Linked DNA regions of Homo sapiens. The protein of the gene in region 1 purifies or fractionates together with the protein of each later gene. This does not show direct contact. Each region holds a gene or a part of one and is shown on either strand. Other genes may lie near its edges.

Region 1 (3,747 bases):
CAACAGCAGTTGTGAACTCAGGTTGTTGAAGGTATGGAGCAGAGCATCAACAGTATTACCTCAGCTTCCTTTTAGTGTAGACCTAATGTCAGGTACTGCGAGCTCAGAGCACTGGGGCCTCTGGCAGCCAGGCTTCCTTTCCTGCTGTATTAGTCAGGAGCCTCCAGAGAGATAGAATCATTAGGATGTGTGTTTATGCACACAAACACAGACACACATACAGAATCGGCACTTTGTATCTGCAGGTTCAACCAACCAGCATTGAGGGATGCTGAGCCTGTGGATGAAGAGGGCTGACTTTTTGTATAAGTGGGTTCTGCAGGGTCAACTGACAAACTTGTGTAGAGACAGGGTTTTGCTGTGTTGGCCAGGCTGGTCTTGAACTCCTGACCTCAGGTGATCTGCCTGCCTCGGCCTCCCAAAGTTCTGGGATTACAGACATGAGCCATTGTGCTTCAACTTTAAGTTTTTTAGTCATAATTGTGTAAGCTGAACCAATTAAGATGTCTATGATATTGGCTATCATTTCTGCTGTTAATATTCAGTCCTCTTCAACTAGGGCACAAAAAGATTAGTTTTTTCCTTGCAAAGTGATGTGGATGGTCTGCTGCTGCAGGTGCTATTTTCAATATTGTCTCACTTCTTAAAATGAGTTATCCATTGTAAACTGCTGATTTCTTTGGGTCATTGTCCCCACAAACTTTTTATAAGCCATCAATGATTTCACCATTCTTCCACCCAAGTTTCACCATAAATTTGATTTTTGTTCTTGCTTCAATTTTAGAAGAATTCATGTTGATCTTATAGGGGCTCTTTTCAAACTGATGTCTTACCTTTCTTAGTGCCTCAAACTAGATCCTGTTCAAACACCTTATAACAAGTTAGTAGGAGTTTATTTTGGTGCAAAATAATTCAAAATCCATGCATAGTTTTTTTCATAATATGCATTTTCCATGAACTTTTTGATGACCTCTTGTATGAAAGGGGATTTATTAGGGGAATGAACTCATGCAATTTTGGAGGCTGAGAAATCCCATGACAGACCACCTGCAAGCTGGAGACCCTGGGATGCAGGTAACATGCTCAGTTCAAGTCCTAAAGCCTCAGAACTAGGAAGCCACTGGTGTAATTCTCACTTTGGGATAGAAAGCCTGAGAACCCAGGGAGATGCTGATATTAAGTCCTGGAGTCCAAAGTCTGGAGTTATAATGTCCAAAGGCAGGAGAGAATGCCCCAGCTCCAGGAGAGACAGAAAATCACCTTTTCTCTGTCTTTTCCATGCCATCCATGCCCCCGGCCAGTTGGATGGATCCCACCTACGTTGAGGGTAGATGTTCCCCACTAGTACACTGACTTACACACCAATCTTCTTTGGAAACACCCTCATAGACTTACCCCAAACTAATGTATTACCAGTTCTTTAAGTATTCCTTAAACCAGTCAAATTGACACTTAAAATTTACTATCACGCTACCTATACTAGAGATAGTGATCTAGAGTCCATTGAGGTGGCTAGAGTGCTCAGGAGCTGGCTTTGCTACAGTAATACTCCCTTCTTCCATGGAGAAGCAGCATGCACAGTGGCTCTGAGAAGCTGGAGGAGGGTCACTGGAGTGAGTGGGCTTCTGGTCTGAAATTGACCAAGAATATAGTTCCTGTGGACCAGGAGTGATTAGAAGCTACAGAGGTCTTAAGAGACCTATCCCTCCTCAGTCTACCTTGCACTTACTGAGGGCTCCCACTCTTAGGAATAATTCCATCGTTTCATTTTGTGGCATCAGAGATGAGTCATTGACCCGGAAGAAGTCCCGTAATGTTTCTCAACTCAGTATCTGTGACTATATTTCCTGCTCTTAAAAGTTTAGCATGCCCTCATGTTTCAGGTTGCTTGGAGAAGTCTTAACCATGCTGTTCACATAAAGAGTCACTAAATCCTCTGGCATCAGGAACTAGAAAATATCCTGAGTGTTGGGCAGTGCCAGACTTAGTGAGGCAGAACTTCCTTCCTTGCCCATGTGGATAAAAGGCCTGGGCCCTGTTACAGCCTGTCAGAAAACCCAAGTGCAGTAGAAGCCATTGTTCATAATGGTAGGGATACAGGGTCCTTCGTAACAGATTATCAGTGTGGCCTATGCTGGAAAGTCTGGTGACCTCTGATTTTTTTTGCTTCCAGGTCTTTGGCCTTGGCACTCTTTGTCATATTAGAGTTCCTGGGTCTAGGCCTGGGCAGGATTCATAGGTGCAGCTGCTTCTGCTGGAGGTAGACTGCATCCAACAAAGTAAGGGTGCTGGGTGAGTTCTGGGAGTATAGATTCTGACTGGGGTCACTGCTGGGCTGGCCGCCAGTCTTTCATCTGACCCAGGGTTAAACTGTGGCTTGGGACTGACTCAGGTCCTCTCTTGGGGTCGGTCTGCACATAAAAGGACTCCTATCCTTGGCAGTTCTGAAACAACACCACCACAATGGAAAAAGGTAAAGATCCTCGTGGAAGGGCGAAAAATTGACAAGGGGGTGATATTCTGTGCTCTCATTCTTACTAATTTACATTTTGACTTTCTCAACAGCATTGAAAATTGACACACCTCAGCAGGGGAGCATTCAGGATATCAATCATCGGGTGTGGGTTCTTCAGGACCAGACGCTCATAGCAGTCCCGAGGAAGGACCGTATGTCTCCAGGTGAGTAGCCACGGTCTGTGAAAGGCAGCTCCTTTGGCCAGTGCTGTTGTGTGTTTGGTGCTCAGATGTTATTCCACAGTGGGCTTGTTAACCGGGCATATCTACAGAGAGGAGCATCTCACAGACAATAATGAATAGAGGGTGAGCATAAGGTTGTTCTGGGACTATGGTCATGAAGTCAGAGAAGAGAGAGAAGGCTTAAGGGAGACTGAAGGGTCAGCCTATGAAAAACAGTGGAAGACGTATTCTGAGAAACTTCAAGGAGTAAGAGTAGGACAAAAGAGGGTAATCTATGGGAGGACCAGTTTTTGAATCCATGAAAGACTGACTTTTCTAATGGAAAGTGTTCCCCAAACATAGGATGGGTGTCCCGGTTAGGTGGTGGGTGGTGAGGTGACCATTCTATGAGTGCACTGTGAGTGTCAGTTAGCAGATTCCCTTAAAACTCTGGCTCAGAGGTACCACCCTGGAAATGGCAGCTGAACACCACTTTTCACATCGTGTTCCCAGTCACTATTGCCTTAATCTCATGCCGACATGTGGAGACCCTTGAGAAAGACAGAGGGAACCCCATCTACCTGGGCCTGAATGGACTCAATCTCTGCCTGATGTGTGCTAAAGTCGGGGACCAGCCCACACTGCAGCTGAAGGTGAGTGTGGAAGACAGGTCCTGCCATTTATTTGATGGAAACTCAGATTTCAGGATCTTTTAAAAGACAATGTACTTATTATGCTCATGCATTTTTATTTTTGGTTTCCTTGGGGTTGGTATATGTTATGAAAGACTAAGAAAAATTGCAGGGACATTTTGAAACAAACCTACTAAAATGACTTATTATTTTAATTTACAAAAATATTAATAATTTGGCAAGGATGATGTCTAACTTCAATAGAACACACACACAGAGTAAAATCAGCAAGGACATTTTAGCAGTTAATTATCACAAAGTAGACGAACTTATTAAAACATCTTTTTGGCAAAAAATACATTGCAACTTTAAATGAACAAACATAATTCTCTGTAATAAACACTTCAATAATCGCAATTTTCCATTATTAAAAAAAGAT
Region 2 (3,747 bases), on another chromosome or scaffold:
GGATAAGCACATACTTATGGGAAGCACATAGCACACACCCCAGTGTGGACTTTATCCAGAGGCAATGAGGAGTTAGTGGATAGTCTTAAGTAGGAGACTAACATGCTCTGACTTGTGTTTGGAGACTATAGAAAAGCAAGGATTATAAACAAGAGTCCAGCTAGCAGACTTTTTTCTTTTCTTCTTCTTACTCTCTTTCGCTATAACTGCATCTCTCCAAAGGTGGGGATCTGAGGCATGTATCCACTGATCCCCGCTCCAATTGGTTGAAGGTTGCCATTGAAAGCAGTCCCTCCTGTGCATTTTGAGATTGCTGTTAGGAGCCAGCTGTGATTGCGGGACAGAAAAACTGAGTCTCCAAAGTGTGCTTGAAGTGGGAACAATGGCAGTGTAAATGGAGCTGTCCACCACAGCTGTGCTGAAATCTGGCAGGCTGACAGGACTTAGCACAGAGTTTTTGCTATAGGAGGCCTTTGCAGTAATCTTAATGAGAAATCATGGTGGCTTGGACCACTGTGGAGGTAGCATTGATAAGATCTGCTGATGGATTGGATAACTCACATGAAAGATAGGAGGGAGGATCATCCCAGGATTTTGAAAGTAATGGAATTTTTACTTACTGAGCTAGAGAAGTGTATGAGAGGAGCAGATTTTTGGGAGTCATGGAGGATGAATTGAGTTTGGTTTGGTTTGGGACATATAAGTTTGAGATACTTATTTGACCTCTGAATGGATAGGTAGTTAATAAGCTGGATACTAGAGAGAGGTCTGGGCTAAAGCTGTATATTTGGGAATCGTCATTTTGTAAGTTGTGTTTACATCTATGAGACTACAGACTCCTTTAATGAATAAGCATAAAGAGGTCTGCTGGGGCACTACAATATTTTCATGTCAAGGAATGAGAAAGGACTAATCAAAGATACAAACAAAGAGGGACCAATGAGGTAAGAGGATAGGAAGAGAGAATGGGTTCCCAGAAGCTCAATGAAGAAAGTATTTCAAGAAGGAGCTGATTAGGTGCTGCTGATGTGTTCTCATTCAGGTTTCAGTTGGAACAAGGGGAATAAAGGGAGGACTGAGGTGTTATATTTAATAATAGTTCACTGGAGATACCAAAACACCTTTGTTGGTGAAATAGTGGGGATGGCACCCTGTTTTCAGTGAGCTTAAGAGAATATGAGGGGAGAGGAATTAGGAAAAAGAGAGTAGAGACAATGCTTTATAAAGGAGTATCGCTGTAAAGTAGATGACTATATAATGACTGATCATGGAATTTAAGTTCAGTAAAGAAGGAGGTGAGAGAAGTGAAAGGTATAGGACCAATGGATTGTAGATCCTGGAGAGGTTAAAGAATTTTTGGAGTAAGGAAACTGGAGAGAGTGAGCTGGAAAAATAGTGGTAGTTGTGAAGAATGAGGTGTTTGAAATTGAGCTTATAGAGGACATGTAGGTACAAGTAAGACTAAATGTGGGAGTTGGTGGCTGAAGGAGGTAGAAGACAAGATCATTGGTGAAGAGGAGGTCAGTGACTTGATGATTCAAGTATAGGAAAGGTTATCTGTATGGGTATTGAAATCATTAAGAATGATGACAGGAAAAGTATTGGAGAGTGATAATAAGGTAGGTGCTAAGTCTTTGTGAAATGTGAGGAAACGACGTGGGCATTTACAGATGAATTCAACAGAGCATGGCGGCAGGTGGTATAGGCTAATGGCATGAGCTGCAGAGGTAGGAGGTTTTAGGGAGGAAGGTGGGGTAATGGCCTGGAAGTGGCAATGGAAAATAAGGAGGATATTCATCCCTCTCTGGCTTCAAGGGGTGTGGAAGAGAAACAGCCACCACTAGAGAAGCCTGCAGGGAAACAGTTTCTCATCCAAGTTTCAGTTAGAGCAAGAAGGGAAAGGCAATGTTCAGAGAAGAGTTTGAGGATATAGTTTATTAATAGTGTTAATAAACTGGTACAGTGGGAAAACTGTTGACTACTTTGGCATATTAGGAATGTTTTAATTAAAGTGGAAAAGAGAAAAATGAAACAAAAATTGGTGGTGTAATAAACAATTGTCACTTTAAAATAATGATTTCATTAATTCCTCAGAAAAGTAAGACTATTTTTCCACATGCTGGTTCTTTGCTTGTTATATCCTCCAATCCCACCTCCCACCAACCCCTCCCTGGTTTGTCCTAGGGAAGGAGCTGGAGAGAGAAAAATATTGAGAGGGATGTGAAATTACTAATGGAGTGAGGGTTTTGTAGAGACAGAAGAGAACAGGATCCTGAGCACAAGCTGAGGTTTTAAGAATGTGTGCATAATTGTGTTAATGGGTCAAAGAGATGGGGAATTGTTTTCCATCTGATGGCTTCTATTTTCTCATTAAAATAGGAAGTAAAGCCATCTGTTTTGTATGATGTAAAAGGGGGCAGGGTTTGGTAGAGGTTGATGTTGCCTTGCTGGAGAATGGGAAATAGCTCACTTGATAAAGAAATATTTCTAGACAAATTATAAAATCTGTTTAGGCTAAGAATTCATTTTGTAAAGGCACCGGTTTCGGTGGTTTGATGAACTTCTCTAGAAGTCTCAGCATACTGGGTACAGGAATGGAATAGCCAGATAACTGGATTAATTCAGATTGGGGTTTGTTGACAGAGATAGAATAAAAGGATTAAGGGCAGAGAACCAAGGAGGCTGTTAGGCAGGTGTTTGAAGGAATGTACTATATAGCATATGATTAAGATATGGAAGGTAGCAGAGATAGAAGGAGACCGAAAAGGAGAAAGAAAAGAATTCAACATTCTGGAGATCTTGATGAGGTAAAGGGATTGGTATATTGGGTTAAGGGCATGAGATACCTGGAAAGACGTGGTGTTTTTCAGGGAATGGGAAGTTGGAATATAAGATTTCAGATGTGGTACAGTTCCAGATAATGACAAAAGTCTGAGATGTGTCTTTTGAAGTGCATGGCTGAAGCACAGTGGAGGAGATAATGTTTGGAGTGAAGGAACTGGAAAAACTGACAGCCTAGATGCTAGAGGATTAGATGGTTTGTCCACATGTATGGTGAAGTCACCAGATATATTGGCAGGAACTGGGATAGACAGGGACCCAGGTGCTGAAGTCTTTAATGAAGGAAGGATGGTGCTTACGAGATAGAAGACAGTGTTGATTGGAGTCGAGGGTGATCTAGCTGGATGGTGGCCTTAAAGCAGCATTACTTTGTAGATGTTTATGTGACTAGAACAGCGAGATGGGTTGAGGTTCTGGTGTATTTGTGTGTATTATTCTTTCCTCACACCATCATATACCTGTTGTTTATCTCTTCTGCTTCTACTTCTTAATTACTTGTAAGATTTTTTAAAAGTCAATAGCTTTATTCATAGAAAATAACTAATGAATAATTGTGACCTTGTTGAGTTTAACGGCTCATTTTTCTTATTTCTTTGTGGAGACTAATACGATTGGTTTACTGGGCAGGAGGAACTAGACATTAGAACACTGCAAACCAAAAATCGCAAGCTGGCAGAAATGTTGGATCAGCGGCAGGCCATTGAAGATGAACTTCGTGAGCACATTGAAAAACTGGAACGACGACAGGCCACTGATGATGCCTCACTATTGATTGTCAACCGATACTGGAGTCAGGTAGCTAACTTGTTTATTTGTTCAGATTTTTATTTGACCAATTTAGTTCTCCTTACTGTTCTCTTCATTTCCAAAGTTGTGTCCTTTGTTTCTTCATAATTGTACCTACCC
Region 3 (3,747 bases), on another chromosome or scaffold:
TCAGTAAATTAATATAGCTCCATAACAATCCCTTTAAAAAATCTTTTTCTGACCACTCCCTGCAGTAGTTTTCTCTTGATTCTGGACATCTGCTTTTAGCCCTTCTTCCAAGCAGGGAGGGGCAGGAGGACACCATTTTTAAACTTCCATAACCAATTAATGCACAGGCTACTTTCAGCAAATATGTTCATCCTTTGCAAGAGACCAACTCCTACACGACCCATTTAAAACCTCTCTTTAATATTAACAGTGGAAAAGAAACATATTACATAGAACCCCTTCGAACACATTATTAAGTAGTTGGAATGGTTGGTGTGATTTTAAAGTTACTGAAAAGATGAATCGAACATTCTCCTCTGCAATCCAACAACTCTACAATCTCCAGTAACAACCCCCTTACAAGTCCTTCAGTTTCATTTCCCTTCCTGGATTGAGAGCCTGGGGCAAAGGGGAATGAAAAGGTGACAAATTAAAGTTTCACCCACACATGCAAGTGCAGGTTAGAGAGAGAATTAGGAAATTCTCAGAAAGGTTGAAATGCATCTTTACAAAAAGAAAAAGAAGGAAAAAAAAGAGACTGGGAGAATGAGTTTCCCCCGTGGCCTTCCTCGCGTCTTGCCCTGCCCTAATCGAGGTCGGAATGGCAAAGGTTGCAGTCTCTCCCAAACCCCAAGGTCTCTCGCAACACTTCCCAAACCTCCATCCCCAGGCCCGGCCCGGAAAATGACGCCCCGGCGGTTATTCCGTTTAATGTCAACTCATGTTAAGGAAATAGCCACTCCGTCTAATTCCAGCGGGGCCTTGGACTGGGATCCTCCCTGCAGCCCACAGCCGGGAAGCAGGAGCGATGGGGCCTGGTCCCGGCGCCCCTCGCCGGCTCCAAACTTTCCCCAACTCCAGGCCCACCTGTCACGGAGGAAGGGAGGGCCGGCTCTCGGGGGCGCCCGGGAGGCTGCCGAGGCCTCCAGCTGCCTGGGGGCCCCCGTCTCTCCTCCGGCCGCCGGCCCCAATCCCAGGCCGGGGCCGCCTGGGCCTCCCCCATCTTCTGCCCGGCCCCTCAGCGACCCGCAGCCCTCAGGGAGCCCCTCCCGCCTCAGCGCCCAGGAGCTGCGGTCCGGAGCCGGCCCCGAGCTGGGCCCAGGTCGCAGGCTCCTCAGGCCAAAGGGGTCCCCAGGACGGTTAATGCCCCAGGCCTGGAGTCCTCCCCCGCCCGGGGCTCAGCCTCTCACCTGCCGCCGCCGCCGCCGCCGCTCCACGCTCCTCCCGGGAGGGGCCCCGACCCGACCCGGCTGCGGACCGCTCCGCTCTCCCCCTGGGCAGGCCCGGGGCGGAGCCGGGGCCTCTCCTGAGCGCCGCAACCCCCCGCCCGGGCAGCCGCCGCCGGCGCCGGGCTCCACGAGAGGGCGGGCGGGGGAGGGGGGGCACGAAGGCCGCAGATCCCCGGGCTCGCGTACAGAGCCAGGCGCCCGACGCGGGCCCGGGCCCGGGCGGCCGCGGGGGGCGCGGGACCGGCCTCCTGGCGCCGGACAAAGGCCAAGGGAGGCGCAGGAGGGCCCAGGCCGGGCCAGGAGGTGGGGGCCCGCTCGGCTGGGGGCCACTCGGGTGCGGCGCGGAGGGCGGGGGGGTCGGAACCGCTGGTGCCCAGGACCCGCCTCCGGCCCCTTAATCCGGATCGGTTCGGTCCGGATTAGTAGTGATCGGTGTAAACACACTAGTGAAACCGCGTGTTTCCTCGCGAGATTTGCACGGCTGGGAGGCGGGGGGGGTCCTGGGGGGGTGGGGGAAGCGCCGACAGTGGGGGAGCAGGGGGAGGGGACGAGGAAGGTGGGGGGGGGTCCCCGCTGCCCCGGCGCCCCGCCTTCTCCAATCAGCGGCCGCGCTGCCGGGCAGGGGTTAACCAGGGGACCCCGCGCCGGCGGAGGAAGCCGCGCCTCGCCGGACGGCTGAGGGCGGGCGACGGGCGGCGCCGGCTGACGGGCCGCAACGCGAGGGGAGGTCCGGCGGCCCGGGGCGCCCTGCGACTGCCCGAGGCCGGAGGCCCGGAGGACCCGCCGCCGCCTTTGTGTCGCCGGCCCCCGCCCCGCTGGACTGGCCCGGGCCGGGGCGGTTGGGCCGGCGCTGAAGGGGCTTGGCCGCCCGGGTCCACCCGTTCCCGGATCCGCCTCGCCGGCCCCCGCGCCCGCCCAACCCCTGCCCAGCCCCTCGGCTCCGCGAGTTTGGGTGAGAAGTGCGGCGGCTTTTCCCAGGGATGGAGTTTAGAGGACGCTAATCCTATGTGTGAGCGGCGGACCCCGCCCGGACTTCCCGGAGGCGCCCGGTTAGTGAGGCGACGGCGCCCACCCGCGTTCGCGGGCTCCCGGCCGCCACTCCCCGGAGCCGCCGGCCCGCCCCAGCCCCGCGCGTCGCCCGGGAGGGCGGGCTGCACTCCCTCCACGTACCTGGCTGGCAGAGCGTCTCCAGGGACAAAAGGTGCCCTGGGATCAAAGCCGAGCCCCCGCCCCCGCGGGGATGCTGCCCTCCGGAAGGAGGGGCGCTGCCCCCAAGGTACTCTCCCCGGGCACCCAGGGGGAGGTTCCATTTCAACCTCCGATGAAAAACACGGCCCTCCCGGGTACTTAGGAGGGTCTGAGGGTAAGTGCCAAGATGGAGAAAACACGCCGGCCCCTCACAGAGTATCTCCTGAGGAATGAGAACTATCTAGCGGGCAAGGAGGGCTTCCTGCATAGCAGAGGGCACCCCCTCTGATCCCCCAAGGCCAAGGGAAAAAAATCACTCTTCACCGGCGCCCCTGAGCCAGGACAGGCTCCAGTGCAGCCACCCACCTTATAATTTTCCGCGGATGCTGCCTTGATCAGATGTCTGAAGATGACTTTAAGGACTACAAGCAAATCTCAAGGGAAAAATTCAGACCTTGAACAACAGCCTTGAACTTTTTCAGGGTTAGACAAGTACTCCCCAGTGGAGTTTCTGCCCTTATTTCTTCGTTCTTCTCTTAATTCTTCCATATTTTAACAGAACACAGACCTGCCGAAACGACACAGGATGGCTCTTTGCTTTTTGTTAGTTCTCCAACCTTCCAAACCCTTGGGGCACATGCAAGCACTGTGGAAAAACTTCATTAAACCAAGAGTCATCTTACTCCAGATCCCAGACTGCTTGGGAAGTTGGACATGCATATTCCCAAAGAGAACAGTGTTGGAAGAAGACAGGAGAGCAGCTCGCGGGTTGGGGGTAGAGGGTAGGAAAAGAGGGCAAGATGGAGGACTACCACTCGAGGCCAGCCTCCACTGCCTGTTAGGGCGGTAGAACCTAAGAGCCGGTCCAAGGCAACACAAAAGACAGTGAGGCTAGGTCTTTAATTGCAGCCAACGATCAAGAAAGCAACTCCATCAAATGACACTGTCTTTTTAAAAAAAATTTTTTTTTTTTGAGACAGAGTCTCGCTCTGTCGCCCAGGCTGGAGTGCAGTGGTGCGATCTTGGCTCACTGCAACCTCTGCCACCCGGGTTCAAGCAGTTCTCCCTGCCTCAGCCTCCTGAGTAGCCGGGATTACAGGCACGCGCTACCAGGCCCGGCTAATTTTTTTTTTTTTTCTTTTTTGGTAGAATCGAGGTTTTGCCATGTTGGCCACGTTGGTCTCGAATTCCTGACCTCAGTTGATCCGCCCATCTCAGCCTCCCAAAGTGCTGGGATTTCAAGCGTTAGCCACCGCACTCGACCAAATGACACTGTCTTAAATGATTTAAT

The links.
Region 2: the proteins of IL36A (region 1) and RNF20 purify together in Homo sapiens (affinity purification with mass spectrometry; 3 studies listed by BioGRID and IntAct, with this or other methods). This does not show direct contact.
Region 3: the proteins of IL36A (region 1) and TLK2 purify together in Homo sapiens (affinity purification with mass spectrometry; 2 studies listed by BioGRID and IntAct, with this or other methods). This does not show direct contact.

The regions. Positions count from the first base shown.
Region 1 is NC_000002.12:113,003,409-113,007,155, forward strand, and holds the start of IL36A (interleukin-36 alpha), read left to right. Parts: upstream 1-2,050; 5' UTR 2,051-2,463; coding exon 2,464-2,473; intron 2,474-2,565; coding exon 2,566-2,679; intron 2,680-3,189; coding exon 3,190-3,329; intron 3,330-3,747. UniProt on the Homo sapiens protein: Cytokine that binds to and signals through the IL1RL2/IL-36R receptor which in turn activates NF-kappa-B and MAPK signaling pathways in target cells linked to a pro-inflammatory response.
Region 2 is NC_000009.12:101,536,735-101,540,481, forward strand, and holds part of RNF20 (E3 ubiquitin-protein ligase BRE1A), read left to right. Parts: intron 1-3,468; coding exon 3,469-3,636; intron 3,637-3,747. UniProt on the Homo sapiens protein: Component of the RNF20/40 E3 ubiquitin-protein ligase complex that mediates monoubiquitination of 'Lys-120' of histone H2B (H2BK120ub1).
Region 3 is NC_000017.11:62,476,773-62,480,519, reverse strand, and holds the start of TLK2 (serine/threonine-protein kinase tousled-like 2), read right to left. Parts: upstream 1,696-3,747; 5' UTR 1,230-1,695; intron 1,077-1,229; exon of another isoform or gene 1,043-1,076; coding exon of another isoform or gene 907-1,042; intron 1-906. UniProt on the Homo sapiens protein: Serine/threonine-protein kinase involved in the process of chromatin assembly and probably also DNA replication, transcription, repair, and chromosome segregation. Phosphorylates the chromatin assembly factors ASF1A and ASF1B.